Linked DNA regions of Homo sapiens: all the other regions are linked to region 3. Evidence: fine-mapped expression QTL. A gene starts in region 3. Each other region holds a variant in brackets. All regions are shown on one strand. Distances are from middle to middle.

The links.
Region 1: its variant is fine-mapped to the expression of RCL1 in sun-exposed skin (GTEx, PIP 0.97).
Region 2: its variant is fine-mapped to the expression of RCL1 in tibial nerve (GTEx, PIP above 0.99).

The regions. Positions count from the first base shown.
Region 1 is chr9:4,831,317-4,842,284 of GRCh38, reverse strand. It overlaps RCL1 (RNA terminal phosphate cyclase like 1), which reads right to left. Exons shown (of 9, transcript NM_005772.5): 4 at 9,057-9,131; 5 at 8,020-8,144; 6 at 928-1,053. Among named protein-coding and RNA genes, the nearest start is that of MIR101-2, 13 kb to the left of the region's middle. RefSeq lists an enhancer at 8,762-9,056. The variant C/A (reference allele first, on the strand shown) is at 5,637.
Region 2 is chr9:4,845,105-4,856,072 of GRCh38, reverse strand. It overlaps RCL1 (RNA terminal phosphate cyclase like 1), which reads right to left. Exons shown (of 9, transcript NM_005772.5): 8 at 6,523-6,626. MIR101-2 (microRNA 101-2) reads right to left here and starts at 5,776; the gene lies at 5,698-5,776. LOC124902113 (a long non-coding RNA gene) reads right to left here and starts at 5,706. Exons shown (of 2, transcript XR_007061402.1): 1 at 2,811-5,706; 2 at 1-2,259. The variant T/G (reference allele first, on the strand shown) is at 5,065.
Region 3 is chr9:4,787,307-4,798,274 of GRCh38, reverse strand. It overlaps RCL1 (RNA terminal phosphate cyclase like 1), which reads right to left and starts at 5,331. Exons shown (of 9, transcript NM_005772.5): 1 at 5,048-5,331. The coding sequence starts at 5,183. RefSeq lists enhancers at 4,581-5,080, 5,155-5,204, 6,025-6,074 and a silencer at 5,285-5,644.

The DNA of each region.
Region 1 (10,968 bases), 44 kb before region 3:
CAGCTGTGGCATCACTTAAGAAGAAGTTGACTTCTTAACCTACAACAGTTAACCCCAGACTCTAATATTCTTATTTTTAGGAGACACAACCTGCAAAGCCTCAGATGTGAAGTGAAATGATGCCCATTCACACTGAAATGATTCAGTAAAAAACAAAAACAAACAAAACCCACAAACAAGTGAAGCAAATTTGGCAAAATATTTATCGTTAACTATAGGCAGCAGGAGTATATCTCCGTGTTCACTGTACTATTCTTTGATCTTTTCTGTATGTTTAACACTTTCCTATTTTAAGAAAGTGGCTTTAATTGCTTCTCTAACTTCCTAGTTGCTAAATACACAAGCAAAGCCTAAAACAGGTATCTTCATTACATAGAGCATCATTTTTTAAGAACTTATTTTCCTTACTTAGAATTTTTTTCTAATTTTTAAAATTTTTATTTTTTAGCAAAGCAAAGGCTTTCACTAAACCAAATTCACGTCTGCAATAACAACTTTCTCTGGATGTAAATATGTTGTTTCCACTGATGAAGAGAGATGCTGACTTACACTTAGATAACAAAAGATTTTAACCCTATACTGTTATTTACTCAGGGTGGAAGAACCTGTCCACTTTAATTTTTTTGTTGGAACAGAGTGCAGATGGAATTTAAAGCCTAAAGCATTGTGTATTAATAGATAAAGGTTTTAATTCCCCAAGGCTAGGAACCAGACCCTTAGCTTCCAGCTCTAGCCACTGGGATGCTTTCCATGTGACAGGCACTCAAGAAATGCCTGTTGGTGACAACGGCAATAAGGCAGAAAGAAATTAATTCTGAAATTGTTCTTCCTCTGGCTGCGCAACCTCAGAGCTGGCAGTTTTAACTTCAACTAGAACAGGCATGTGAAAAAGCTGCAGAAACAGACTTCAAAAACACAGATACTTACTTCCCAGAGTTGACTCCTTTCATGTGATCTGTGTAAATATAGATATCAGGTATGAACTTGTTGAGGATGCTCCTTGCAGAATCCACAATCCGGTTCGCCATCTGAGGTGACACACGTACAGAGTACCTGCAGCCTGGAGTTAAGGATGTCATTCTGCTTGAATTCCAGGACAGAGAAAAATCAGTTATAAAGCTGGCAAGTATTTGTGGAACTGTAGTAACAAACTGGGACTTCCAAATCTATTGTTTTCCAACTGAATTTACTGAATTAGTACCATAATTAAATTTTTTTCATTATTATAAAAGGTCATGGCAAAAACACCCAAACAATAGAGACAGTGGAAAGTATAAAGCTGGAGGTCCTCAACCCCACCCCCTGACTTCCTACCCACACGCTTCCCCTAGAAATGGTTCAAGTCAATTTTGGAAGGTGTAAAGACACCTGCCTCTCTGCGGGTCATGATCCAGGCTCCCTCTGAAGCACAACACCTAAGAACACTTTCTATTCTCTGTCCATTCCCACTGCTGTAGCCAATGAGTCTCTCTCTTAAGAACCTAAGCCCAGAACAGACACCACACAGGACCTGGGCGATCCCAATCTGACTCCTGGTATGCTGATGGGAGAAGCAGAAAAAGTTCAGTGAAAGAACATGGTTGCTGCTATTTATAAATATATAAAAAGGTTTTTCTCATTTACAGGGCCTATTTTCTACTATTTAAGAATTAATTACTCCACTTGTGGATAACACAGCCTCCTCACACCTGCTACCTTATGGTTAAAATATTGATAATTAGCACTCCTACAATAGGGCACCCCAGAAAAGAAAGGAGGAAGATATTAGTAACTCAAGTGAAAAGATTGGTGCTTGAGGAAATGGAAATTATTGCCTAAAACTAGACTTTATAACAGAAGCTGGCATTCCCCAACCACACATGTCAAAGAAAAAGTAAGTATGTATTGAGCACTTCAATGTGCAATGTATGGTCAAGAGATGGCTATATATTTGGAACTAAAAAAATGGAGAAATAACATGTGACCTTCCCACTACCCTGATACAAACCCCACGTGACAAGTCCAACAGGTAGAACGAGGTATATAATCTGCCCAATCCAGCCCAATGTTCAAGAACTGCTGACAATAACATATTTAATTTTCATCTGAACTGCAGAAACAAAGTGCTCAGAGACGATACATGACCTGATCTGGTATCTAGCTCCCTTTTTTGACCCATCCTGAACTTCATACTAAAAGACCAATCTTCCTCATGCTGGTGACAGTCTCTCGGTGGCTCCTGGTCCTCCCATATCTTGTTGTTAGAGCCCCCAGCCTGCTCAGTTGTGTCCATCTTCAGCTCTGCACCATCAACTCCTTCCACCCATCCAAACTGACCAAATTCCTCAACCTGAGCTGCTTTGCCCCATTCTCCCAGCCCGAGGTCCCAATCTCTCTCCTGAAACCCTCCAGCCGGCACCCAAGTGTTAGCTCCACTTGAACTTACCATACATCTCTCTTCACATATGCACATTTTGTTCTTGCTCTTCAATGAGACCACACACTCTATAAGGGCAAGGGCTTTACCTCTGTAATCCCTCCCAACTCTCCAATACACCACTTTTGTACTCAGAAATGCTCAATAAATATTTAACTTGACTCAAAGGACAAACCTGAAATGAGGAAAGAGCAAAGAGGGATTTTTCAATACACACACAGCCCAGTTACATCACCATCTCTTCAGTCCAGAATGTACTTTTGACCACAGACAGCTTAGACAAACAGTCCTGAATCTCATACCCTTTGGACCAAGCAGGTGCTGTCCTTCTGAGGTCTGAGGCTGCCCACTGTCCCCAGGAAAGCACAAGAGATGTCACCATCCTAGCACATAATCCCACAGAGCTCACGGCTCCCAAAGTTCTTTCACATCTATTATCACCTTACTTTATGCTCACAGTAACCCTGTGTTGAGGGCCATGGCTCCGAGTTCTAGGACTTACATTAAAGACAACTAAGACAAAAAAACTAAGACACTTGCTCAAAATTAAACAGATCTGACTCCCAAAAAGCATCTTCCTCCTCTCACCCATCCCAATACAAAAACACGAAGGTTAACAAACAGTACGAATTCAGGGCCTACAGAATCCTATACTAGAACTCAGGCAATGAAATGAAGAAGGCAAAGGAACTTTAAAGCCAGTTGCTTAGAACCATCTGGCTTGGCATGGATGTCCTACTAAGGAATGGCTAACAGCCCCCAAGTTCTAGAATCAGATTATCTCCGTTCAAGTCCAAGCTCCAGCAAGCTGCATCACTCCAGGTTAATTGTGGTAACTTCTCTGTGCTGTCATTTCCTAATCAGTAAAAGAAGGATAATCATAACACTTTCCTCACAGAGTTTGGAGGCACAAATGAAATAAAATGCATGTAAAGCTCTTAATGCCTAGTGTGTAGTAGGAGCCCAACAAATGTCAGCTATTGCTTTTCTTTATTACTTATCCAAGATTCAAATCCCAAGCAGAGGTTCTTATTCTTTCAAGAATCAGAGAACTCTCTGAGAATCTGATGAAAGCTATGGACCCTCTCCTGAGAAACATATATACTCACAATCTTGCAGAAAATTTTTCAGGTTTATGAACCTCCTAAAGCCCATTTATGAAAACCATATTAAGAACCAATACCAATGTACAAGTCCATAGCTACAGTCCATATGGGACTCCCACTCTTCCCCTTCCCCAATGTTCCATGTCAGAGAAAGCTAAGAGGGGTGTGTGTGTGTATGTTACAGTAGGTGGAGAGAGAGCTTGATTCTCAAAGTACCTTTCCTACAGTCAAGGAAAAGAAACTAGATTATCCCACGAATTCCAACTTATCCCCCTTTACTGCCAGCTTTTTCACTTAATTCTCATGTACCAAATCATGAGCTCCTAGGACAGCACTGCAAAACTAAAACAGAATGTTCCTTTCTCTTACGCCCCACATAAGGCAGGGGTGAGAAAGAGTGGGTGGCATTAAGTAAAAGGTAACTACTGTGTAGTCACAGCTGCTGGCAGGAACCAACACCAGCTCCCTCTGGGCCCTGGCTGGTAGGTCATCTTGTAGAACGCAAGAGGGAAAAGATGCACTTTGGAAGTAATTCAGTTAAAACCACAAATGCACACAAGAGAGTGGGCCTCTTTCTCCCAGTCTGAGCCCTCCCATGGGAAATACAACCTCCAAGCTTAGTCCAGTAGTCAACCAGCCTTGCAAGGAAAAAAACCACAAAACCAACTCAAGCTTTTTCCAAAGGCAGCTCTTTTTTCCCAGGCTCCAAAACTGGAGAAGAGGGCGATCTCCATTCAAACCAACATTCCTTTGAGGTGTTTGTGAAATGGGCAGCTCTGCAGAGCAGTGGCTGAAATGTTTGGTTAACAGACAGGGATCTGAGAAAGGGCACTGTGTCAACTCTCCTGGGGAGCCAGGAGGAAGCCTCAACCAGTCAGAGATATATTGGGGATGATTTCCATGTCCTATCCCCTGCCTCCAGGGAGGGAGGAACTTGGGACCTCACAAGTCTCTTCCTGGCTCAGATTCTACACAGGGAAGGTTCCAAGAACATTAGAGGGAGAAGCCAGGGAGGAACATAGTTACACCCAAGGTGCCCGGCACTACAGCTCTTTTAACTTTTATGTTCTCCCCTGGAAAGCCCTTCCCCATTTCCCAGCATCATCATCAAAGGACACGACCATCTGCACACCCAGAGAGAACAAGGGGGACCCCACTGTGATGAAACCCATGTTGTTATGACAAGATTGTGTCAAAACAGAGCACACTGCCAGAAATCACATTTCCAGACTACAGAGACTGGATTCCAAACAAAGTTCACGGCCGCCAATACAGCATTAAGGAAACACATCTCAAATAAGGAGGAAAAAAAACAACTACCCCCCAGACAAACCCAAAATAGTACTGAAAGTGTATTCCTGTACACTTATTGGAATGTATTGGAAAGTGTATTCCTATACACTTATTACACTTTTTTTCACCATTGCCAAAAATGTTGTGGTTAAAGCCATTAACCGCAGTGTATTTGGCAACAGTGAAAAGCAAAAAACAACTCAATGGCCATCAACAGGATTTGATTTTGGGTTCTATATATGGTGGAATACAATGCATCTGTTAATAAGAATGAATTCAAGTAGAAAAGGCACATTTGGTTTCAAAAACACACACCTAGTTACATTGCATTTCCATTTCTTTGTAACCTAATTAACCTTATTCCAGCTCCTCGGATTTGGATACTAGAGTTGAATATCACCTTAGAAAGTCACCTGGGCAATGTAACTATGCATCAACCTGGGGGCTCCTAGGAAAGGAACCATTTCTCCTTTTGCCTGTTCTCTCCTGGTACACACAAGGCTGGGCGCTTACATGGGCTGGGGGACAGCCATGCAGAGAACAGACCATAACCCAGGAAGGCTTTGTTATTATGTATTCCTGTGGTTTTGATGATCCTTAAAAAGAACTTCAGGCAGCAACCCAAGTTTGAGCTTCTATCTTAACCAGCACTCTCTCTGCACATGGCTCTGCAGCCCACCCTACTCCCTGCCCTTCACCACTTACTGTTCAAGCTATTCGAGGCCTCTGAAAAGACAGTCCACGCTACACCTTTCTTCCTCCAAGTAATACCATTGCCAAACCTCCTGAGAACACAAAACCCGACCTTAAGCACCCACCCC[C/A]GCCCTGACAAGCAGGCTTTCTGGTCTGCCCTCCTTGTCACACTCCCGCCAGGAAAGTCATCCCACAGCCTGTCTTGCTCTACGGCCTCCAACACCTGCTCCCACCCAGATCCTGTCAGCACCTAGAATTTTACCACTTTTAATATCTGAAATCCCAAAACAAAACTCCCTAAACACAATCTCTTGTCCTACACAGTACATGTATCTATTTCCACTAGATCTGATCTTTAAGCCTGTTAAAGTTTCTCATCCCTTGACCTGCTTTGTCCAGGCTGGTGAGCCCCTGTGACAATCCTCAGTGAGGAATGTACTTCCCAATGCTCCAGCACCCACCCTCCAACTGTCCTCCTGTAGGACCCACCCACCTTGCCAACCTGCATCCAACCTTGGATGAAATTGGTCCTCCCACGTTCTCTACTCCTCCCTCTAGGCTGCCAACTGCCACTGGATATAGCCACATGGCCATGCAGCTGGCACTGTGTTAACATTACACCTTCAGCAAGGACCTTACTGCTGGAACACAGCCTTTTTCTTATCTTCAGTTATGATGCTCCCCTGTGAAGGCACATCTTTACCATCCTTGTCACACTCTCTTATCCTACCCCGCCCATCCCCTTACCCTCAATCCCATCCTAACTCGGTAACAACTGAAAACTCATCCCAACCCCCTTCCACTCACCTCCACACAGCTCTACCTGGAGCCACCCTTACCGTATGCCTGTGGCCTTGAATCCATCCCCTCTCAAGTAAGAATAAAAAGAATAGTAGTAACCATTTACCCAATGCTACTTACACACCAGTGCCTCCTACTGTGCAACTACGATCTCATTTTACCTTCATGACAGTCTCGCACAGCAGTTATAACAGGACTAAAGATATACGGGCAACCAAGGCTTACGGCCAAATGCTTCCATTGGTAAGTGGCGCAGCCGGCGTCGGCACCCACGTCTTTCTGACTCCAGCACCTGGGCTTTTAATCAGCTCATTACTTTGCTTCATCTACATTAACAACCTACAAAAACACTCAAATCCTTACCAATCTTTTTGTAAAAGGGAGGGAGTCTCCCTGACTCTCGCTTCATCAAGTTACTCCCTCATCCTTCCTTCTCCTTCTCTTTCCTGTCAAGGTTCTGTAAAGAGTGGTCCCCACAAGCCGCTGTTTCCCTCCCCTTCACTCCACAACCCAGAATTAGTCCCTTGGGATAGGGATCCAGCACTCTTCCCCAGGGCATCAGTGACAGCCTGCTGCTGAGTCCCTCAGCTTTTCCCCCACCCCAATGCTAACTCCTCAGGGCCTTTTAAAGTGCTGACCTGAGCTTCCAGGAAGCTATGTTTTGTTTATTCTCTTCCCCACTCTTACTTCCCTCCTTACTTAACTCTTGCTTTCAAGTTTTGGTGGCCTCACAGGGTTCCACCCTCCTTTCTTTGCGTTCTGCATAGTATCTGATTCCAGCCACCTTCAGCTCTTCACTGGCCCCTGCCTGTCTTCATGCCCCATTCTACCATCAAATGCCATAGACCAACCTGAAATCTGGCCACACTTCATTACTTGCCACTCCCTAGAACCACTGTGCACTGCCACCTCTGCTCAGGCCCACTTTTCTGCCTGAAGCCCTCCTCCTTTCTTGCTCTACTTTGCAATCCTCTGTTCTTCAAGGCTCCTTTCTATAGGCAAAAGTAAAAATTAAATGCCTGTACTTTAGAGTCACACAGACCAGGTTCAAATCCTAGCTCTGTCATTATTAGCAGTGTGACATTATTAAGAAATTCCTTAAGCTTTTGAAGCTTCAGTTTCCCCATCTGCAAAAAAGGATGTAAGTGAACTCAAGGGTCAATGTGAGGCTTAAAAGCATGTAAAGTGACTACTGAAGTAGATGCAGAGTAAATACTTAATAGTAGATATCATTCATTATGATTACTCCAGCCTCCCTAGGTCCTCCAGACAAAATTGACCACTGTCTACTCCAGGCCCCCACCCCACTGCACATATCATTTTGCATGTTATATCAGAACTGTGTGTTTTCATATTTGGTTCCTTCACCGAATGATGACGTCTTCTGAGGGAGGAACTGCAGTATATTCATGGCCCCCAAACCAAAGCCCTTGAGAGAGGATCACATACATCAGAGCCATTTGCCTAAATGTTAACCGGAAAATTAAAAAAAAAAAAAAAAAAAGAATGACTCAATCAATCTAGTCATGGTGAGGCAGATAACAGAACATCCTAACTCAGCCAGCAATTACAATTTCACTGTTAAGACTTTTCAAAGTTGTAGTCTAAAATGTAAATAACCTCGGGAAGAAGTAAAGCTGTTAGTCATTCTTATCTTAGTGAGGCAACAACAACAAAAAAAAAAGAAATCCAAATAAATGGAAAGGATACGCCATTCCTCTAATACGTTTGATTTTTCCTGGATCTGTGAGTTGAATGGGCTTCAAGACCTTCCTCACAGGACATGAGAAAACCACTTCGCCTCCTCCTCCGGGAGGCATTCCCCGTCGCACAATCTACACAGAGAGTGAGAAAGATGAGGCGAGGATGCAGCAAAGCAATGGATTACCCTGACACCCTGCCCAGGAAGGTTTACACCAGCAGATGCTTCCTTACAAGGCATAGCTCTTCCATATTCAATCTGTCATTCCCTTCAAGACCAACAGCACCTTATGTTGGCTCCTAGAGAGTACCTGTGCAGCATGTGTCAAAGTCCAAGTCGATTACCCAAGTGGCTCTGCCACTCATCTCTTTAACCCTGAACAGGTCACTTCTTTATCCTTAAAATATAGAGCTGACCTAGTCCATCATCTGAGCCCATTTCTTAATAATCAGAAACCCCTTTTTCTCCTCCCATGCAAATAACGGATCTACCAAAACATTATTAAATAAAAATGAAGTCATTTCCCCTGTTTAAAACATGAATGTAAAAGGCAGAGATGCTAAACGGTTTACCACATTGGATTGATATAATTCAACAAAATACAGATGCTTAAACTACTTCTACTAGATTTTGGAAATACTGAAAATTCTCAGGGACATCCAGGTTGGGAGCCCCTGAACATAAATTATATCCAGATCATTTAGATCAGAGAGCCAATATGGCCCAAATCTATTCTCCACTGCTTGCTAGCTGAGGCACATGGGCGGAGCTGTTGTGAGGAGAAAAGGAGTTAGTATTTGTAAACTGCTTAGAACGGCCCCCACCGCAAAAGAAGTGCAACATCACTGTCAGCTACTATTGTTATTACTAAAGGGTCCCTTTCAGTTCAAAGTCTGTAGTGTTTATTTCATGAGCCCTGTGAGTCTTCTGATAACTGGTGACTTCAAATGTGACACACATACACTGAGTCACACAGCTCTTCCAATGAGTCAGTGGGAAAATGTTTTCCACAGGAACATATGGTCAACAGTTCAAACATTCTTACCTTCAGTTCAAATGATTCACCATCAATCCCAAATTGTTTCAACAAAGGGAGTGCTGTTGCCTTAAGAACATCAACCTATGAAATTATTTCAGAAAAGAAAAGTTTAATTAAGCCTTCAGCAGAATACAAGAGTCAAAAAAAACAAGTAAGGCTTAGCAACCAGGTAGATGATGCAGTGTGGTAAACAGAAAGGATGCTGGCATATAACTGAGCGAGTGGGCTGGCTCTGCCTGAGGAACACTGTGATTTCACAGGCCACTGGGCTTCTCTGAGCCGCACTTTCCTCATTCATGACATGGAGACCAACACCTACCTTAAAGTCATCGTGTGCATCAGAGGCATCATGCAAAAAGCATGGAGAGACTGGACTGTTGTAGAAAACAAATGGAGAACCCTACTTTTTTTTTTTTTTTTTTTTTTTTTGAGTGGAATCTCGCTCTGTCACCAGGCTGGAGTGCAGTGGCGCGATCTAGGCTCACTGCAACCTCTGCCTCCCAGGTTCAAGCGATTCTCCTGCCTCAGCCTCCTGAGTAGCTGGGACTACAGGCATGTGCCACCACGCCCAGCTAATTTTTGTATTTTTAGTAGAGACGGGGTTTCACCATGTTGGCCAGGATGGTCTCAATCTCTTGAACTTGTAATCTGCCACCTCAGCCTCCCAAAGTGCTGGGATAACAGGTGTGAGCCACCACACCCAGCCTGGAGAACCCTACTCATTCTTATAGGTATAAACGTACAGAAGAAAATCATCTTTTTCATTAACATTTGTCCAGTAGGGTTATTTAATGTTTAGAGCCGGTAGCATTCCGAGTCAAAGCAAACCAAATTAACTATTCAACAGCTCACCTAAGAATGCCAATGATGAGCACCACACAGGCAGCTAAAGGGAAGGTGATGATTTTACATGGGAGTTGGGGAGTCGGGGTGATGACAGCCTCAAACTACAGGAAGCAGCACAAACTCAAAACTACAATTAGTTACAACATCCATAGTTAATGGCAAGACTTTGCCACGTGTAACTGTTATCTCCTCCTGCATTCAGAGCTCCCAGGAAGTCTGGGGTCTTTCTGATCCATTTGTGGATTCCTGATAAGAGTAGAAAGATGGCATTCAAATCAGGTACTGTTATCTAACGAGTTGGCAAATGTTGCCTCAACTGCTACATGGGAAAGAAAATTACTCCATTACTTGTTCCCTTCTTGGATCTGTCAGCTGGCAGGGAGGGCAGGCACCACACAGAAGGCATAGGAAAAGCCCTAGTCCTGGTCCCAGCTCTGCTTCTAATTAGCTATGTTGCCTCAGACAAGAAAATCACAACTATCTGAATTTCCTTATCTCTAAGGCAAGGGGCTCAAGCCCAGCCATCTCCAAGTTACAACTAACTCTAACAGGCTAAGAAGCCCCAACTAAATATTGTGATATCAGAAAAATACCAGACTTAGGAATGACCTGTGAGGCCTAAGAACATGCTTAGAATGGATCAGGTGGGGCAGGGGAAACTAGGAAAACCACTGAAGATTAGCTAATTTTAAATATTAAAGCTACAGCCCGAGCAACATAGTGAGACCTCATCTCTACTAAAAAAAAATAAGCTGGGCATGCTGCACGCCTGTGGTCCTAGCTACTTGAGAGGCTGAGGTGGGAGGATCACTTGAGCCCAGGACTTCAAGGCTTTGGTGAGCCACGATCATGCCACTGCACTCCAGCCTGGGAGACAGAGTGAGACCCTCTCTCTAAAAATAAAAAAATAAAGCACACTCAAAAACTTAATATATGCATTTGGCGTTGCCAGATAAAGAAGAATACAGTCGAGGCTTAAGAGCAGCTGGGGAGAAGGCCAAGTCAGATTCTGAAAAAGTAGGGGATGCAATGCTGCAGTTACTCTGGGCAGCCACCGGCTCTCTCGAGGGAA
Region 2 (10,968 bases), 58 kb before region 3:
TTTGCTGCTGCCTCAAACTAACACAGGCCTGGGGCATGCTCTGCTCCCAGGATGTCACCCAGCCTACTTCACTCTGAATCACTCAACTGTGCTTGAAAAACCAGACACCCTCCCCAGCTGGCAGAATTTCTACGGGCCCTCAGCTTGCTTCTGATCTCTTGGAGAAGGATGGGAGGAACACAGGCTCAAGTGTGCAGGCCTGTGTATTTGCAAGTTTGGGGTATTTGTAGCCTTTGGAACAGTTAGAAAAAGCAAAGTTAGTTCCACTTTTTACATAATGTTCTGCCAACTCCTCAGCCTGTCCAAGGAAGACTGTGTAAGAGACTAGATTAAGGTACATTTCAGAATCTTTCCCCCACCTCTAGCCCCATTCTCCCTATGTCTCTGGCAGCTGGGATATTGAAGAGCAAAAATGCTCACAACCTGAAAAAAAACCACAGACAATATTAAATCCCAGCAAACAGCCTCCTTAAGAAAACGAAAAGCAAATGAAGAGTAAGCTCGTCCTGTATCTACATGCACTTGAACAAAGTCTTGTCCAGTGCTGATCCACGTCCTGCTCCACAGCCCAACAGCTCTCCACAGCAGCAGCTGCACTGAGGCACCGCCTCTTGAGTTCATATTTCCCTGCCCCTCTCTTCCACAGCACTACACTGGAGATTCACACTTCCTAGACACAACCACACAGCCACACACCCAGGGCAAAGAGACCCACCGCTCACCGAGAGCAGCTCTGCCCCTCAATGAGTAACCACCCACACAGCGCAAATAGCAGCTTTTCAGAAGAACCATTCTAGGCAGTAGGGGCTCTATGCAACTCCTGTGTAAAGGATTTTAACACCTAACATAGAGAATGATTATCTGCAGTGAGGCTTTTTTTTTCCCCGGGACAAAATGATTTTCAGAAAACAAAAAGCAACTGACTTTTCTACGAAAGCCTCTAGTCCATCTGACAAGCAGGTTTCAGAGAATTCTGGAGCACAGAGATAACTTTTCCTATTTTTTTTTTTTTTTTTTTTTGAGACGGAGTCTTGCTCTGTCACCCAGGCTGGGGTGCAATGGTGCGATCTCAGCTAACTGCAACCTCTGCCTCCCAGGTTCAAGTGATTCTCCTGCCTCAGCCTCCCGAGTAGCTGGGATTAGAGACATGTGCCACCACGCCCGGCTAATTTTGTATTTTTAGTAGAGACGGGGTTTCACATGTTGGCCAGGCTGGTCTTGAACTCCTGACCTCGTGATCTACCCGCCTCGGCCTCCCAAAGTGCTGGGATTACAGGTGTGAGCCACCGCACCCGGCCTTCCTATGTATTTTCAAAAGGTGAGTTGTTCCCACTGCCACTGCTGGTCAACAGGAAAGGCCATGAGGCTTGTGGTCATGGGTCCGTTGAATCCCAACTGACCAGGATTTGACAGGCTGCCAGATCCCACCCTTAAACACAGCCCCTCCCACCAGACCCCTCTTTTGAAGCATGTGAGAGATTGGGGTGAAGGCAATCATGGGGTGAGCCCTCTCTCTGGCAGCCCCCACAGGCACAAACCACAACAGAGGGTCCTGCGTCCTCCTCCACTAAGCCACCTGGTTACTATGCCACTGGATATGGGACAGAGCTGGGGGTACCTACATCTCAGGTGTAAGGACATGCTCTGGAAGTTGAGGGAAAAGATCTGGAGATAAGAAAAGGATCTGCTCAATGGAGTCCCTATAGTCATTACATGGCAGCTTTTAAATATACTGCTGATGCTTTTTCTGCTGAATAGAGGCTTTTCCAAAGACAAGCTGACCTCTGCTCCAAATGAAATTACTACATTCAGTTACTGAGGCAGCAGGAAACAGAGAACTAGGCTAGCTGCACTGTCAGGAGATGGGGTCCCAGGCCCAGTTCAGACAGGATCTCACCATAAGCAGGTCAGTGACCTCTTTTTTATCTGAGAAGGAAGGCTATCACTTGCTTTTACCATACACCAATTATGTTCTAGGGCTCAAACATCAGGTGACAGGGCTTTACAGAATTTAAACGCTTCACAAAACTAAGACATAGTGGTACTGTGCAAGCTCATGGAATGCAGTGAGGCCACTGACCCCAAGTAGAGGCAGGCTTGGCCGGCAGTTCCCAGTTTCCCCACTGGTTTCCTCATTGGTTCTTCAGAGGGCTGAGCTTTAGGCTGAGTGGGCTAGGAAGCCCCACTCAGTTGGTGTTTAACAAGGACAGTGTCCTCTAGCTCCTCAGCACTTCCACAGTCATGGAAAAAGGTCATTAACTAAAGTTAGAAAAAAAAAAGTCACGGTTTATTTTAGATTTCCAACTAAAGATAGAAAGAGATCATTTTACAGCAGAATTTGAAACGAGGACTTTGCTGAAAAGATGTAGCATGGCATCCTGCCTCAGGCAAGGTGCTTGGAGTCCAGCGATATGGATGGAATCCCAGCTCTTACATAAGAGCACAATGGGTTGGCCGGGCACGGTGGCTCACGTCTGTAATCCCAGCACTTTGGGAGGCCGAAGCATGTGGATCACCAGGTCAGGAGATCGAGATCATCCTGGCTAACACGATGAAACCCCGTCTCTACTAAAAATACAAAAAATTAGCCGGGCATGGTGGCGGGCGCCTGTAGTCCCAGCTACTCAGGAGGCTGAGGCAGGAGAATGGCACGAACCTGGGAGGTAGAGCTTGCAGTGAGCTGAGATCGCGCCACTGCACTCAGCCTGGGCGACAGAGGAGACTCCGTCTCAAAAAAAAAAAAAAAAAGAGCACAGTGGGTAAGGGAAGCAGTGACTGGAGGAGACTGTCCAGGTCTGAACCCCACTTACTGTCTGTGTGACCCTGGGCACGTAACTTGACCTCGCTGTGCCTCAATCCCATCACCTGTAAGACGGTGCACATGATAGTACTTGCCTTTTTTGCCCTTATGAAGTTATGATGAAAACCAGATAAGTTATTATGTCTGAGTGCTTAAAACAACATCTTGCACACAGTAAACACGGTGTTGTTTAAATAAACATCTACCTTACAGAATTCTTAGGATCAATAAGATGTGTGTAGTTTGCTCAGTAATGTGACTAGGGGAAGTCAGTCATAAAAATAATAACTAGAAATTAAAATTTTTTAATCCATAATTTAAAATTAATGGATATAGATTTATAGGTAGCTGGGCAGACCACTTACAGATGACTTAAACCCTAAAATCACCCAAAGCAAGTTTACTAGGCCTCCTGGGGTTCAAAGTGACCTGACCGGGCTACTCTAGCCACACTGCCTCTGGGGTAGTCCTGCTCCTCAAGGAGCAGTTAAAAAAAAAAAAAAGTGACCTGACCAAGGGACTGGACTGCAGCAGGGTGAAGGGGTGTCCAGGCAGGAACCACAGCACCCAGCACTGACAGCTCCTCAGGCACGTTGCCAGGAGCACTAAGCATCTGACTTAATCTAAGCTTCGTTCCATCTCCACAAGTCCAGGACTTCAGGACCACGCACCTTATCTACAAATGACACCAAGGCTCCAAGATGCTAAATACCATTTCCACGGTCTCCTGGTAGCGCGTGGTAGAGCCTTAAGTCCAGATAGGCTGGACTCCAAGACTTGTGCACTGGCAGAATGCAGAGAGCTCTGGTAACTGCAGTCTCATTCCACAAATAATTTCTGAAAGTGCTAATTAAGATGCATCTTAATTTTTGCTATTTTTCTTGCTGTTAATCCAAAAGTATAAATCCTCCCTCCCTAAACTGTAAAATTAAGCTTGTTGAATGGAGGGTGCAACTACTGTCACTAACTGTAAGCCACCTAAAACTCAACAAATTTAACAGAAATAGAATCTTCATATACCAGTGATTATCCAACAGTATTTTATTCTACTGAAAAAAAATCTCTTGGGCCTTTCTAAAAGAGTTTCACATTGGCCGGACTTGGTGGCTCAGGCCTGCAATCCCAGCACTTTGGGAGGCCAAGGCGGGTGGACCACGAGGTCAGGAGATCGAGACCATCCTGGCTAACATGGTGAAACCCCGTCTCTACTAAAAATACAAAAAATTAGCCAGGCACGGTGGCGGGTGCCTGTAGTCCCAGCTACTCGGGAGGCTGAGGTAGGAGAATGGCGTTGAACCCGGGAGGCGGAGCTTGCAGTGGGCGGAGATTGCGCCTCTGCCCTCTAGCCTGGGCGACAGAGCGAAACTCTGTCTCAAAAAAAAAAAAAGAGTTTCACACATACAGACTTACTTTCTCAAGTAGCACAGAAAACCACCAACAGCAATCCCAATGCTCTTTACATAGACATTTAAAAAGCTGTTTTATACACACGAAAAACAGGTCCAAACTGCTTGAAGAAATGCTTTTTTTTTTTTAAACCAAGGAAGGTCTTGCTTCTGGTTTTCTTTAGAAATCTGAGGTTTCACAAAACAGGTTTCTATGACTTTAACTACACATAAAAATAAATGTGTTAGTTTGGTCTCCAAAGCTCTTGAATCCATTAGAATAAACTATTCCCCCACCATGATGGTCCTCACCGTGGATTTCATCCCTTTTTTATCCTCAACTGTACTCACAAATACAATGTTAACTTTGCCTGCTGCATCCTGCCTTTGCCCTTCATCTCTTTGTGCTGCTGGAGCTGTCCATAGTGATTAGGGGCAGAAAGAGTATGAAACAGATCCAGCTTTCTTGAAAATAGACTCCCTTACCTGTCTTTATGCTAGCTTACCAAAAAGAACGGAGGCTTCCCTTTCCCACCCTGGCAGACCCGTCTGCACAAAGCTCTGGGAGGCAGCAGAATATCTCTAAGCCCCAGCCTCAAGATACATCATCTTACAATTTGTGCTACTCCTTTAAAGCTCCATTCAGAGCAGGACACTGTTTTCACAGGAGAGGAAGTCATTTTATGCAAGTTTTCTGGAAGAAAAGACACTACAATTAATGTTTGGTGAGAAGATGTGTTGAAGAGGACACAGGAACTTTCAAAAATGTCCAGTCATATCTTGAGCATCTCTGCAAAGCTTGAAAACATCATACAGGTCCTGGAGCCAAATTGAAAAATCTCCAAAAGCAAAAGAAAAAAAGTGTCACGAAAAAAAACA[T/G]ATATGTATTCCATTTTCACAGAATGTTCTGCCAAACCCCATGCCCCAGGACCACACACATTCAAGACAACACCCCATACCTCATACCGTGTGTGCAAGCAGGACTTCCCCAGGCCTGAAGCAAGGGCTGGGAAACGGCAGCTACGAGCCCAGCTACAAAGCCGGTGGGGCCACAGTGGCCACACAGCTGGCAGCCGCCTCCAGTGAGCTCTCTACAGGAAGCGAGTCTCTGTACCTAGGGTGCCATTCTTCCAGCCCTCATCTCCTCTCCAAGTACTTAACTACCAAGTCTATTTTAGCATTGTTTACTACTGATGTTACCACGCCATTTAGGATTACTCAATTTTAGGTATCCTGTCCTACGAAATACTTTTACACAAGCTATCAGGAGATAATGTGGTCCTTACCAGTTTCCTGCTTATCAGTCTTCCCTCTCTGCTAACAGAATGTATTCTCTTCCATTTTCCTGTTCTAAAAAAACCTCCCACCACGAATTCCAAAAAAAAAAAAAAAAAGAAAAAAAAAAGCCTCCATAAGAATTTATTTCAAGCTCCTGGTTTTCATGCCCCCAACGCCATGGCCCAAGGGTGCATAGCCCCACCGCAGTCCTCAACCCTTTCTCAATGTGATGGCACCACCATTCTTCAGTTATCACAGTACTGTACCTTTCAGATATACAGCATCGGTACCATGATAACCGAAAAAGGACAGTTCAGTCTCATATCTACCTGAATATTCCCTGCCACCCAGCTCACCAACCTCAGATGGGCCATATGATGATCTCCAAGTATGCAAGCACGTGAAAACACACACACACAATGTCAGTACTCAAATAGGCTGTTTTCCGCAACCTCATTTACTATCAATAGGAAATGCTTCTTTCACAGTGTCATTTATAATTCAAGTCTTCTGACACTGTTCTTTTTGAAGAGTGCTTGCTTTTACACCACAGCAGTCAACTTCTGCTAACATTCAACAATCCAAACTCACTTCTACAATTCCCTACTAGTCCAGTAGCATTAATACAAACTCTGTCTTTTGTCATCTTTCCCAGTGAGCTCATATCCTATCATCTTAGACAAAAAGCCTGTTTTCCCACAGCAAGTTAGACAGCTAAGGAAAAGAATGATTAAAAAAAAACTAGTAATAAAATCCAAGCTACACCAAACCAGGAGTTTACCTCTAACCTGGAAACAAAATCTAAAGCACGAACAAAATAACTGCCCAATAGAGATCATGCAATTTCAGTTACCTGGGATTAAGGAAGGAAAGAAATGCAAAAATCCTTGTATGTAAAAATAAACACCAGGTTAAGAGTGACAACTGCTGGCTGATTTGAGGATAAACACAAGCAGGTGTTCATAGTGCAGGCTCTGTGCAGCACAACACCCTTTGTCATTTTGGGCAATGAGAAAATTACACTGGACAGAATAACGAGGTTGAAAAAGAATAACTTACGTGTAGGGAGAGAGAGGGCCTAGCAGGACTTTGGAAACATCCTGCTGTCCAAGGGTCATGAGTAGTAGCGCCAGGCTTTGGTTGGTCGAGTCTACGCATCCACCCTGTAAACACAAATTAATAATTGTACAAACCAGAAAATGGAAAGCCAACAAAAGAGAGGAGGAAAAAAAAAACCAGAAACATACACTCATAATATCAAAATCCAAAGTTCAAGCAACAATAAAACAGAATACAGGTCTTATAAGAGTAATCATTGTATCAACTAACTGTAGAGGGTTAAACTAACAGTTAATTAGAGCAACTGTAATAGTTGAGACTATCAGAATGAGACTATCAGATTCAAATCTTCTTAAGTGAATCTAGTAAAAAAAAAAAAAAATGAAACTTTCCCTTTATCATTAAAGCAGCAGCAGGAGGACATCATCTTTATTGAGTATATGCAAAAAAAAAAAAATCTTAATCAGTTCTAGAAGATGTAGAGTTAATTCCAAGGGTTAAGTGGATGACGCTCATATTTATTGAATCTGTCACAGAACAACACAGTCTATCTGACATGAAACGGCCTTTTCATGGCCTTACTTTTACACTTATTCAAATACATTCAGGAAACTGCTTGCCATACTCTATTAACTTCTCTCCTTTATCTCTTCCTGAGTTCCTTAAAACTGAAGACTTGTTAAGGTTAGATCCCTTTATTCTTACTACTTATGTATAAAATTATGCCTTCCACCCCCTTTTCCTTCCCTTTCTTCCAAATTAACAAGCAGAACAGACTTCTCTTCAAACACTTTCTCCTGAGGTACAACTGCTTAGGTTGCCTTTCTTCTTTTGTTTTTCATTTTCTCAGCCATTTTAACTGTTTTGCCTCCACTAGACGCATACATAAGCATACAAACACGCTTTCTGATCATTCTTTCTGGAATAACTTTAAAACATATTGTACATAGTCAAAGAAGGATGACCTTGAATTTCTACATATTTTGCACAGGTCAAAATTAGAAATCCAGTCTGACCAAGGCACGTTACTATCCAAGGCTAGACTGAACAGGATAGGTGGCCAGCAGTGTGGTTCATATGGCTACAACTGCCCCTGCCTCCTTTTTAAGGCATGTAGGGTAGGAAATAAATCCATTTTCAGATACAGACACTCTGAAATTCTCTGGCTGTCAGATATCATTTAGTAGCCCTAATAATGGTGAAGGAAATAAGGATTGATCTTACTGCTAGCCTTTATGAAAATCTATTGCACGTCCCTAAACTACCTTAGTTAATAAAGGACAGAAAACAACATTTAGATCACATAGCAAATTCTAGGACAAGGAGAGTTCCTTTTCCTTTTCTACCCAAAAAGAAAAACCTGACCCATGGAAAATATGACGACCAACAAAACTGTTTTATAGATCTTGCTCCCTTTCATAAGACAGCCTAAAATTAAAGTGTTCTCTTCAGTCTCTGCTTCCTATCACTGTTGTTATTTCACCATTCACTGGACCAGTATTTTAATGTAATAGATAGCTAAGGTCCCTGTACAGGACATCATGGAGGAAGTGGTAGGGGCTATCACCCTACCTATGCTGGGGGGAGGTGTCACCTGCCAGATACCTGAGGAGGGCTTTAGGACTCAGGACTACTTGAGCCAGCCCTTGAGAGATGAGCAGGGTTTGGGGAGGAAGGAAGAACAGAATGATGGGGAAAAATAAAATGCCAGGGCCAGCAAGGAATGGCCAGGTGACCAGCCTGGAAGGCACCACTGCTGCCTGTGGAGAAGCACATACAGCACAGAGAAGGTGGGTAGCCCAATTAAGGCAAGCCTTTCCGAAATGGGTCGAGAATTCTGACTTTGTCCCAGGAAAGTGAGAAGCCAGTGAAGGTCTCTGTGCACATGAGTGAAGAGATCAGATCAGTATTTTAGCCTGAAAAGGATGTTAGGATTTGGAAAGAACTTCTCTGCTAGAAATGCAGAGAGCCAGTGGCCATAATCCAGTTGTGGAGTGGAGCAGGGAGGCAGGCAGTGATTAGAGCAGTGAAAAGGATGGAAAGAAAAGGCAGTTCCAGAAAGCCTGGGACAGAATCAAGAAGGCTTGGTAACCGATGAGGCATAAATGGAACAGGGGGGATTAGATCAGAGGCTTAAAACTTGATAAATAGCACCTTCAAAAGGGATGGATTTTTTACCACTCATTCAATCCATGTCACATCACAACTCTACAGAAAATTATTCAGAAAAACATGAAGTATTTCCATCCTTTTAATAATTAAAGATCATAGACATAAAAAGGAAGTTTTCTGAATAACTAAAAGAAAACGAAAGAAATTTGGTCCAGGCACAATGGAAGACTGAAAGTAGATCTCAACTAAAGAAAAAAAATTGCCAGGCACAGTGGCTCACGTCTGTAATCCCAGCACTTTGGGAGGCCGAGGCGGGTGGAACACCTGAGGTCAGGAGTTCGAGACCAGCCTGACCAACATGGAGAAACCCTATCTCTACTAAAAATACAAAATTAGCCAGGCGTGGTGGCACATGCCTCCAGCTACATGGGAGGCTAAGGCAGGAAGATCACTTGAACCCAGAAGGCAGAGGTTGCAGTGAGCCAAGATCACGTCACTGCACTCCAGCCTGGGAAAGAGTGAGACTCTTCCTCAAAAAAAAAAAGAAAAATATTAAAGAACCTAATTTAAACTGCATGTTTTTCCTCTTGTGGAGTGGTAGGTGCTTTTACCCTGAGGCTTATAGCCTGCTATTTATAGGGATATAAACCCCACACTCTAGCTGTGCCCATAGGCTCCTACTGGACTACTGTATAATGTGATGCTTCTAATTCTCCCAAGGTCTATTAGAAAGACATGGAAGTGTCCCCATAGTTAGAGAGAAGGCCACTACAGGACCAGCCACGGCCAGACACTACAGGACCAGGAAAAGAAATCCTGCACAACAAGAGACCCAGGGAAACACATTGCATGCACTGTTTCCCGCCCCCCTACAAATAAGTAGACCACAAACTTCGTGAATTAAGTAACTGGCAGGGCAACCTCTTGATCATCTACCCCAAACTTTTAGTTACTACCCATTTTTCACAAAATTATTAAATTTAGCATAAAAAAGTAAACTGATTTAGCACCAAAACATCTGAGGCCAGATCGTGACTGCACAAGACTTGTCAAAGAATACCTCCTCCTTCAGGAAGATTTCATCTCCTTCTTCTACTATTTCCCAGGTGAATGCCGAGTAGAGGGGCTGGAGCTACTCTCCTGAAAATAAAACTATAGGTCCACTGTCTTCCATTTTTAATTAGATGGTCATTAAATAGAGCCATTTAGGACCTGGAAATTTAATTAATTCTGAAACAGCTCATTCTCATGTGTTCCATCTTGGACCAATGAGACATTTTCAAGAACACTGACTTGGATCAAGGGAGTAGACTATAAATATAAGCTGTTTTCCACTGTGAGGCTGGTCTGAGGATCAATACCTATGGCTAGTCAGGCTTTACCCTACCACCCTGATTAATAAACTGAACCAGTGGCAAAAGGAAGAATTAAAAGAAAAACTAAATTGCCACTTTACCTGTTTTACTGATTTTATTTAACTTGGCTCAGATGTGATTTTTGCTACCATAAACGAGAAAACTTACTTGGAGACCAGAAAGATGCCTGACAACTGAGAAGAAATACACAGAACAATACAAAGAAAGAAGTCTCTTCAGCTCCTTAGGGGAAGAAGAGAGATGATTTACAAACATTATACACCATACAACAGCAAATCAACTAGAGTATAGTTCTTGCTGATGCTCAGTTCAAGAATCTGGGACCTAACACACAGAGCAGAGAAACGACCATCCTTCAGAGCCTTTCCTGGACTCTGCATGTCAGAGAAAAGGTTTCACCTTCTTGATGTGGGACCAAGGCAAAAGACGGTGCAGACTAACAGAAATCTTGGACCCAGATTTGTGACCCTCTTCTAACCAAGTATAGGGGATCTCAGGGAATATATCTTTTAGGAAACTGTATCTTATTCTTTCTGCCATCATCTTTCCAAATTTCTCCCTTACTTTAGGTCACCTCACCTATTTTGAGGAAACAGTAAAAGTGTGTGCATGCATATGTGCCCGTTGCAATGAAAGGATCAACAGAGAAAGACTGTGGCAACTGAGAGGGCAAATTGGTCTCAGCTGTGTCCCACCAGCAGACCTGCAGAAGCAAAATGACAACTGGTTGAGTCTGTCTTCAACATCAGTTTACCCCTTCTCTGTTCCATGTTCTTAGGTTTTCCAAAGCTTCTGCTATGCTGTGCCACAGGCCTGCCTTCCCTAGTTATTCTGTGCTTTTTTAAATTTTTTTCTTCTTTTCTAATACTTATCTGTTAACTGAGATTCTGTGCTCTAGAATGCATTGCAAAATCTAGCCTGTTGCTATTGTTTTATATATGAATCAACTGTCACATAC
Region 3 (10,968 bases):
AGAGACTGTTAAACTGAACCCTGCAGGACACAGTCCTCATGAAATCCAGAGATAGAGGCACTTTGGACAGCTGCTTTATAATACTGATGAGGAACACCCAGGTCCATCACGCTGTGAAATGAGAGAGAACAGGTCCTTCAGGCAGGAGCTGGCCACATTCTCTTTCCAGCTCTGTCCCTCACTACACGTTTGTCTTCACCAACTATCTTACCTAACTACGGGTTGGCTTTTTTACCTTGAGTAAAACAGCAGCAACAAGAAAAAATATTTACTTCCTCTTCAATGAAAGGAAGAGTACAATGAGATAAACTTAATTGTTCATGTTCCTCAAAACGGAAGCATAAATTATACATGTGGCTGGACAATTATAATCACCAGCCCGGGACCATCCTTCTTTGGGGTTCAGATTCCTTTCAGTATTTACAACCCCTTTGCAATGGAAGGGGACAGTTTTAAGAGATTCAATGATTTGCCTGAAGTCACAGAGTTTGATCTGTGTCTCATTTGTTTCTAAATCCTTGTGTAGTCTTCTTGGTGTCACATGCTGCTATTCCTAATCATTAGGGATACAGGGAAAAGAAAAGGTTTAATTACTACTGTCAAGTAGGCCAGGGTTTTTCTACATCAGCACTACTGACATTTTGAATGGATAATTCTTTGTTGTGGGAGGCTGTCCTGTAGGATATTTAGCAGCACCCTTGGATTCTAACCACTAGAGGCCAGTAGCATTCCCCTCTGCCAAGCTGTGACAACCAAAAATGTCTCCAAATGCTCCCAAATGTCCCCCACTGAACAAAAGTGCCCCTGGTTGAAAACTACTGTGCTTTACATATAACATAGAAATACGTGGAAACAACCACCTAGGAGAAGAACTTTACAGAAGGCATAATTCTCTTCAAATATCTGAAAAATTTCCATATAGAAGCAGGAACGGATTTGGCATGCCAGGGAGCAGACCTATACCCAGTGGGTTCAAGCTACATAATAATAAAATCAGCTAACATTTATTCTTCCTATGTGCCAGGCACTGTTCAGTACACTTTGAAGTATTATTTCATTTAGTCCTCACAATAACCCTGTGAAGTCAGTAGTACTGGCCCCACTTTACAGGTGAAAAAGTTGAGGCTCAGAAGAGAATAGTTAAAATAATTTGCCCAAGGACCAAGAGCTAATAGCGAAAGGCAGAACTCGTACTCAAACCAAGGTCCAATACTGACCCCAAGCTCTTAATTGCCAAGTATTATGACCATGACAAATTAAGGATTTTACCTCAGTAAAATAAAGAAAATAAAGAACTTTTTGACTTAAAAACTGTTTCTTTCATATGGAGATTTCTCAAAGAACTAAAAATAGAACTACCATATGGCCCAGCAATTCCACTACTGGGTATCTACCCAGAGGAAAAGACATCATTATACAAAAAAGGCACCTGTACTTGTATGTTTATTGCAGCACTATTCACAATACCAAAGTGATGGAACTAACCTAAGTGTCCACCAATGGTTGACTAGATAAAGAAAATGTGGTATATATACACTATGGAATACTACACAGCCATAAAAAAGAATGAAATCAGGCTGGGCATGGTTATTCATGCCTGTAATCCCAGCAATTTGGAAGGCTGAGGCAGGACGACTGCTTGAGTCCAGGAGTTCAAGACCAGCCTCGGCAACATAGACAACACCCCATCTCTACAAAAAAAATTTTAAAAATCAACTAGATGCTGTGGTACACATCTGTAGTTCCAGCTACTCAGGAAGCTAACGTGAGAGGATCACCTGAGCCCAAGAGGTTGAGGCTACAGTGAGCCATGATCACACCACTGCACTCATGACAGAGTGAGACTCTGTCTCAAAAAAAAGAATGAAATAATGTCCTTTGCAACAACATGGAGCTAGAGGCCATTATCCTAAGAGAACTAATTCAGAAACAGAAAATCAAATACTCCATGTTCTTACTTATAAGTGGGAGCTGAACAATGGATACACATGGACTTAAACATGGAAATAACAAACATTGGGGACTGGAAAAGGAGGAAGATTGAGGGAGATTGAAAAATTACCTATTGGGTACGATGTTCACTATTTGGATAATGGGTACACCAGAAGCCCAGTCCCCACCAGTAGGCAATATATCCATGTAACAAACATGCACATGTACCCCCGACTCTAAAATAAAATTTCTTTAAAAAAAGAACTGTTTATTTTGCAAACAATGATTTCCGCAGCCACCATCTCAATCCTATCTGTCCAGATCAGGTCCAGAAAACCTGCCTTCCTTCGTAACTTTCAGGGAAGTGTCTGCTCTGAACTCCACTGAGCCCCTGTACAATACTCAATCCTTCCTACTTCAAGTTACTCAAACTTAGTAACATCCTACTTACATGACAAGCTCCATGAGAACAGGGGCAACCAGCTTCTCACATATATTACACTCACCCCCATACAAAGCCTTGCACATACTGTGGCTCAATAAACACTTTCTAAATAAATGTTCCTGAGGCCGAAAGCCTCCCATACTATCCCTACCCTCCAAAGCCCACACCATGAGGGATGTTTTAAGCAAGCACCTTGAAGAGATGTGATTCTTGCATTAGAACTGAAGATTTTATTGGATATGCTCTGAGTTTTTTCCAACTCTGAGAATCTGAGTTAGGAAAAGTCAGAAAGGGACAGATGACGGGCAACATAGGCTTCCGGCTACATCTTCAATCAAGCTACCAAGGACTCCCTTGATTATGACCAGAAATCATGTGTCAGGGACTACATCTATTTATGCGTGCACGTATATGTATATACACTTACATGTATGTGTATACATATACACATATACATGTATATCTGCAAATGCATATCTATCTCTCTGTTCCCTCTGTAAGAAATTAAGCAGACAGGCTGGGCGCAGCGGCTCACACCTGTAATCCCAGCACTCTGGGAGGCCAAGGCAGGCGGATCACCTGAGGTCAGCAGTTTCATACAGCCTGGCCAACATGGTGAAACCCCATCTCTACTAAAAATACTCTACTAAAAATTAGCTGGGCATGGTGGCAGGCACCTGTAATCCCAGCTACGAGGGAGGCTGAGGCAGGAGAATTGCAGGAACCCAGGAGGCGGAGGTTGCAGTGAGCCGAGATCGCACCACGGCACTCCAGCCTGGGAGACAGAGTAAGACTCTGTCTCAAAAAAAAAGAAAGAAATTAAGCAGACAAACATCTACAAGGTTTCTGAGGCCCTGAAGCCAGCGCAAGGATGTACAAATAACTAGGAGTCTCTTTCTTCCCCTGGTATATGAACGGGGTAAGGCAAATAATGCTCTACAGTAATGTTCCCCATAAAATACCAGCACACCTGCCAAGCAGTTCTACCTCCCTCAGGTATCAGCGTCTGACACCCTTTCAAGAAAGTGCCAAGTGGCCAAGCCCTGTTCTTGGAAGAAACGGGAGCTCATATGTGTGAGATGCTTTGAAGAGATGCTCACATACAGTGGAGGGGGAGAAGGAGAAGCATACTTTGGAACATTAAATATTAAATTGGAGGCCACCTGTCAATAGAAAAACTCTAAATAGAACTAGATTCATTTTAGAGAACCCAGGTTTCCAGGCTATACTTCCATTTCTCTGGAAAAAAAAAAAAAAGTTATGCCTACTTTTATACAAAGTAGAAGTCCATCTTCTTACCATATCCAGCTAGTGGCAAGTTCTCTGAGCTAACCTGAGGGTAAAGTGGATGGAGAGCTGGCTGAGAATGCCACACAGCAATCAAGCAAACACTTTGCCCAAGGGTCAAACTAAGTGGAACACTTGTTGACGGAAAAGTCGTGGCATAAACCATTTGTGGTCTCTCCCTAACTTTCTCAGTGTTTTTGAGCAGTAGAGAGAGGACAGGAACCACCAACACAAGTTTTTCCTACCATCACTAGGTTTCTCACCACTGTACCTGGGATATTCTGCTTCTTTCCTTCCTAACCTATCTCCGTCAATAGCATGGCATCTTCTGCCCTTTATGTGCAGCCAATCACCACCCAAGAGAGGCAGAGATCTAACTATCCAAAAAATGCATTCAGACAGATAAAACAAGAGCCAGTGCAAAATGAAACACATCAGCGCCGCTCAGGAAGCTTCCAGGACCAACCACAAACACTCTTTTTCAATTTACAGACAGGTTTTTTCCTTTTTCACCTGACTACTGACTCGCCCAACTTGGGATAACCACCAGTCAGAAGCTTTTAAATGCATGTATCTCATGCCAGGGGGCCAGGTGTAAACCAAGGCCAGTTGAAAACCGGCGCCATTTAATGAGATGTGGGTTTAAATGGGCCTATTTCTTTTTAACCTACCATTGCAGAGCAAGAAGTGAGCTTGGAAGCCTGCAGTTTAGCGATTGTCACCGACCCCTTTTCTAAAGTCAAGGCAATTAGGCCCATGACTGTTAAAAGTCTATCTCAAAGCTCCTGTCCTGCGCACATCAATCACAGTCACGGCTGAAAACAAACACAGAATTTTAAAAATTTCTTTATCCACACCCAAGGACAAGTGTGAGGGCAGCCGAGAAATCATGGCGACAGGAACAGCCGGTGTCCAAGGGGGCAGCTGCTTCTGAGAACTGCTTTGAGACAGGGCAGAGAACCAACCCAAGGTACTTTTCTCTCCCAATGTCTCTCCCCCGGCTCATTCACCATATTTCGGTCCAACAAACTGTTTTTCTCCTTTGAGAGGTTTATGGCGAGGGCAAGAGGGGCCGAAGGGACGCGAAGGGGCGACGCCAGGGATTTGTTGCTACACGTAAAGCTGGAAAACGTGCAGCTGTTTACTACCAGCGCCCCGGAGACGCCGAGCGCAGCTTGCAGCTGAGCGCTCCCCTCGGGCCCCGACCCCGCCTCCCCCACTGTGCCTGCCCCTCCGGCTTTGGAGGCGACGCGCCACCTGCCCTCCCCGACGCGCTCGCCGGACGCCGAGCCGCCCAACCAACACCGCGCGGGCCCCCACGGCATCAGCTCGGTCTCCCCTCAGCCCCCGCGCCCACGCCGCGCGCCGCCCACACCAAGTTACCTCGGAGGCCCGGGTTGTCGTCTCTGGCCCGAATCTTTCGGATTTTGACGGGGCGCCCGCTCAGGGTAGACAGGACCAGACGTTGGCGCAAGAAGTTGCACCCTGCGTAGCTGAGGGAGTGCGCCTGAGTCGCCATGTGCGCGCTCTCCGAAGAGACGTGAGCAGCCCGAGAGCGGCGACTTCGGACAGACGCGGGACTCGTGACTCCGATGGTGGTGGTGGCGGCGACACCGACGGCGGCGGCTCGGGCTGCCTCCAGCAGCCCAGACGCGTCCACGTGGTTTGGAACAGGAAGACGGAGAGACTAGACACCGGGTCAGAGGGGAGCGGGGCGGAGCCAGTGGCCACCTCCCCGCCTCCCCGCCCGACCGGGGCGGCCCCCGCTTCGGGCCACGCCGCTATTGGCCCGCGCCGGATCAGGGCGGTGCCCGCGCCGCGCCTCCATTGGCTTCCGCTGAAGCTGGGCGGTGCCCAAGCCGCGCTGCCATTGGTCCGTAGTGGAGCTGGGCGGTGCCCGGGCCCTGGCAACAGCGCGCGGCTGGAGGGAACGCGGGAGGATGGCCAGGGAACCCCGGCGCGGGAGTTGCCAGTCGGGGCAGTCTCCTCTGTGTACCTCCTGGCGTGGTAGCAAGGGGAGATGGCGGACTGAGATTGATGCCTACGACGTGCCGGATTCTTAGCATTACTACTTACGGCAACTACTGGGGTGAAGATGCTATTATCTACCCCTCCTCTTTCTTACTAAGAGAGACAACAAGGGTTGGTGCACTCACCCTATCGCAGGGATGCCGCTCAGCGCACTGCCGGCGCAGTCCCGCAGCTCCATGCTGTAACCCTGCAAGGTAGAGCCATCCTGTCCTACTCATGGATAAAGGCTCGAGGAATATTGCAAAGCTGACAGTGGCAGCCTATACTGAGACCCGAATCCTCCCACAGCAGGCCGTTGCTTATTTTATTGAGACACCTCTTTGCCCCTTTCTCACGGGTCCCTTCGTTTATCGTCATTGCGTTTCATGGCAATTCAGGCCCTCCTACCTCGCATGCTTCAAGATAGATAGTTGTAATAACTTCACACACACACACGCGCGCAATGCTTTTTCCCTCTTTCCCGTCCTCCTCCAATCCTGCACAAGAAAATCTTCCCAAACGTTGGATTATTTCACTTCTCTACTCAAAAACCTTCCAAAATGTACAGTTAACTAACAAATGACTACACAAGTAGAAGTCCGATATCATAGTAATGTGGGTTTGTAGCCATTCCTGGACAACACTCACCAAACCATGAGTCCCAGAATGCACGGGGGTTCGCGGGGGGAAGGGGGGCGGGGTATGATAGTGTCTGAAAGCGGTGGGAGTTTAAGATTAAGGGATGTAGCTAGCCTTATGTAGACAACAGTGTGTTATAAAGTGGAGTGGAGTGGCATGCTCATGACTCACTGCAGCCTCAACTTCCCGAGTTCTAGTAATCCTCCAACCTCAGCCTCCCCATTAGCTGGAACTACAGGTGTGCACCACCATGCTCAGCTAATTTTTGTATTTTGTATAGACATGGGTTTTTGCCATGTTACCCAGGCTGGTCTCAAACTTCTAACCTCAAGCGATTGGCCCACCTTGGCCTCACAAGTGTGAGCCACCACTCCCAGCCTTTAATCCATTTTTCTTTGATTTTTGTAAATGGCAAGAGATAGAGATCTAGTTTCACTCTTTTGCATATGGATATCCAATTTTCTCAGCATCATTTATTGAAGAGACTGTCCTTTCCCCAGAGTATGTTCTTGGCAACTTTGTCGAAAATGAGTTTACCGTAGCTGTGTGGATTTATCTCTGCGTTCTCCGCTCTGTTCTACTGATCTATGTGTCTGTTTTTATGCCAGTACCATGCCATTTTGTTTACTCTAGCTCTGTAGTATAATTTGAAGTCAGGTAATGTGATTCCTCCAGTTTTGTTCTTTTTGCTTAGGACAGGTTTGGCTATTCTGGGTCTTTTGTGGTTCCATATAATTTTTTTAATTTTTAATTTTTGTAGGTAGATGGTACATGTATATATGAGGTACGGGAGAAGTTTTGATACAGGCATGCAATGTGTGATAATCACATCCTGAAGGATAGGGTACTCATCCCCTCATGCATTTTATTCTTTGTGTTATTATACAAACAAAACAATTATACTGTTTTAGTTATTTTTAAATGAAAATTAAATTATTGTTGACTACAGACACCTTGTTGTGCTATCAAATAGTAGATCTTATTCTTTCTAATTTTTGTACACATTTATTATCCCCACCTGCCCCCCAACATCCCCACCCCCTCTATGTTTTCCAGTCTCTAGTAACCATCCTTCTACTCTCTATTTCCATGAGTTAAATTGTTTTGATTGTTTGATCCCACAAATAGGTGAGAACATGTGATGTTTTTCTTTCTGTGCCTGGCTTATTTCACTTAACATAATGATCTCCAGTTTCATCCATGTTGTTGCAAATGACAGGATTTCATTCTTTTTTATGGCTGAATAATACTATATTGTGTATATGTATCACATTTTCTTTATCCATTCATCTGTTGATGGACACTTTGACTGTTTTCAAATTTTAGCTATTGTGAAGAGTGCTGCAACAAACATGGGAGTGCAGATATTTCTTTGATATGCTGATTTCCTTTCTTTTGGGTATACACGCAGCAGTGGGATTGCTGAATCATATGGTAGCTCTATTTTTAGTTTTTTGAGGCACCTCCAAACTGTTCTCCATAGTGGTTGCACGAATTTACATTCCCACCAACAGTGTACAAGGGTTCCATTTTCTCCACATCCTCACCAGTATTTGTTATCGCCTGTCTTTTGAATATAAGCCATCTTAACTGGGATGAGATGATATCTCAAAATGAGTAGTTTGCAGATATGTTTTCTCACTCTTTGGGTTGTCTCTTCAGTTTGTTGATTGTTTCCTTTGCTGTGCAGAAGCTTTTTAACTTGATATGATCCCATTTTTGCTTTGGTTGCGTATGCTTGTGGGTTATTAATCAAGAAATTTTTGCCTAACCAATGTCCTAGAGATTTTCCCCAATATTTTCTGTAGCCATTTCATAGTTTGAGGTCTTAGATATAAGTCTTTAATCCATTTTGATTTGGTTTTTGTACACGGCAAGAGAAAGCAGTCTAGTTTTACTCTTCTGCATATGGATATCCAGGTCTCCCAGCACCATTTATTGAAGAGATTGTTTTTTCCCCAGTGTATGTTATTGGCACCTTTATTGAAAATGAGTTCACTGTAGGGTTATAGATTTGTTTTTGGGTTCTCTATTCTGTTCCACTGGTCCATTTGTCTGTTTTTATGCGAGTACCATGCCATTTTGGTTACTATAGTATTTTTTTTTAATTTTTCTTTTTTTTTTTTTTTTTTTTTGAGACAGAGTCTCACTCTGTCACCCAGGCTGGAGTGCAGTGGCATGATCTCAGCTCACTGCAACCTCCACCTCCTACGTTCAAGCGATTCTCATGTTTCAGCCTTCTGAGTAGCTGAGATTACAGGCATGCACCAACACATCCAGCTAATTGTAGTATAATTTGAAATCAGGTAATGTGATTCCTCCAGTTTTGTTCTTTTTCTTAGGATAGCTTTGGCTATTCTGGGTCTTTTGTGGTTTTATATAAATTTTAGGATTTTTTTTCTATATCTGTGAAGAATATTATTGGTATTTTAATAGAGACTGCTTTGGGTAGTATGGATATTTTACCAATGTTGATTCTTCCAACCTGTCAACATAAAATACCTTACTATTTTTTGTGGCCTCTTCAAAATCTTACATCAATATTTTATAGTTATCATTGTAGAGATCTTTCACTTCTTAAGTTCATTTCTAGGTATTTTATTTTCTTTTTAGCTATTGTAAATGGGATCACTTTCTTGATTTCTTTTTTGGATTGTTCATTGTTGGCATAGAGAAATACTACTGATTTTTGTGTGTTAATTTTGTATCCTGCAAATTTACTGAATTTGTTTATTAGTTCTAATATTTATTTGGTGGACTTTGGGTTTTTCTAAATATAAAATTATATCATCTAAAAACAAGGAAAATTTTTTCTTCTTTCTTTCCCCTCCCTCCCTCCCGTCCTTCCTTCCTTCCTTCCTTTTCTTTCTTTTCTTTCTTTCTTTTTTCTTTCCCCCCGCCTTTTTTTTTTTTTTTTTTTTTGAGACAGGATCTCACTCGGTCACCCAGGCTGGAGTGCAGTGGCATGATCATGGCTCACTGAAGCCTCAACGCCCCAGGCCCAAGTGATCCTCCCACTTCAGCCTCCCTGGTAGCTGGGACTACAGGCATGTACAGGCATGCTCCATCACACTCAGCTAATTTTTTAATTTTTTTGTAGAGATGATATTTCACTGTGTTGCCCATGCTTGTCTCAAAGCAATCTGCCTGCCTCGGCCTCCCAAAGTTCCGAGATTACAGGCATGAGCCACCCACACCCAAGGGTAATTAAATTTCTTCATTTCCTATTTGAATCCCCTTTATTTCTTTCGCTTGTCCAATTGCTGTAGCTGCAAACTTCCAGTACTATGTTGAATAAGAGTGGTGAAAGTGGGAATCCTTGTCATGTTCTGATCAAAGAAGAAAGGTGGCCAGTGTGGTGGCTCACACTTGTAATCCTAGCACTTTGGGAGGCTAAGGCGGGCAGATCACCTAAGGCTAGGAGTTTGAGACCAGCTTGGCCAACACGGTGAAACTCCATTTGGGTGTGGTAGCATGCACCTGTAATCCCAGCTACTGGTGAGGCTGAGACATGAGAATTGTTTGCATCTGGGAGGCAGAGGTTGCAGCGAGCTGAGATCGCACCACTGTACTCCAGGCTAGGTGACAGAGCAAGACTGTGTCTCAAAAAAAAAAAAAAAGATGAAAGGCTTTCAGTTTTTCCCCATTCAGTATGATATTAGCTGTGGGTATATCATATGTGGCTTTTATTATATTGAGGGATGTCTTTCTATACTCAGTATTGTTAGGGCTTTTATGAGGAAGCGATACTGGATTTTATCAAGTGCTTTTTCAGCATCAATTGAAATGATCATTTGATCATTTTTGTCCTTCATTCTCTTGCTATGATGTATTACATTACTTAATTTGCATATGTTGAACCACCCTTGCATCCCTGGGATGAATCACACTTGGTCATGATGAATGATCTTTTTAATGTGTTGTTGAATTCAGTTTCATTGAGAATTTTTGGATCAGTATTCATCAGAAACATTGGCTTGAAGTTTGCTTTATTTGATGTGTCTTTGTCTGTTTTTGGTATCAGGGTAGTACTGATCTCATAGAATGAGTTTGGAAGTATTCCCTTCTTCTCTATTTTTTGGAATAGTGTAAGTAGAATTGGTATTAGTTCTTCTTTAAATGTTTGGTAGAATTCAGCAGCAAAACCATCAGGTCCTGGGCTTTACTTTGCTGGGAGAGTGTTTATTAATTCTATATCATTACTTGTTATTGATTTGTTCAGCAGTGAAACCATCAGGTCCTGGGCTTTACTTTGCTGGGAGACTTTTTATTAGTTCTATATCACTACTTCTTATTGATTTGTTCAGGTTTTGCATTTCTTCATAGTTCAGTTTTGGTAGGGTGTATGTGTCCAAGAATTTATCCCTTTCTTTTAGATTTTTCAATTTGTTGGTATATAGTCACTCATCATAGCCACTAATGATGCTTTGAATTTCTGCAGTGTCAGTGGTAATGTCTCTTTTTTCATCTCTAATTTTATTTATTTGTGTCTTCTCTCTCTTTTTTAGTTAGTCTAGATAAAGGTTTGTCAATTTTGTTTATGTTTTCAAAACACCAACTTTTTGTTTTCTTGATCTTTTGTTTGTTTTCTTCATTTCAAATTCATTTATTTCTGCTCTGATCTTTATTATTTCTTTTTTCTACTAATTTTGGGT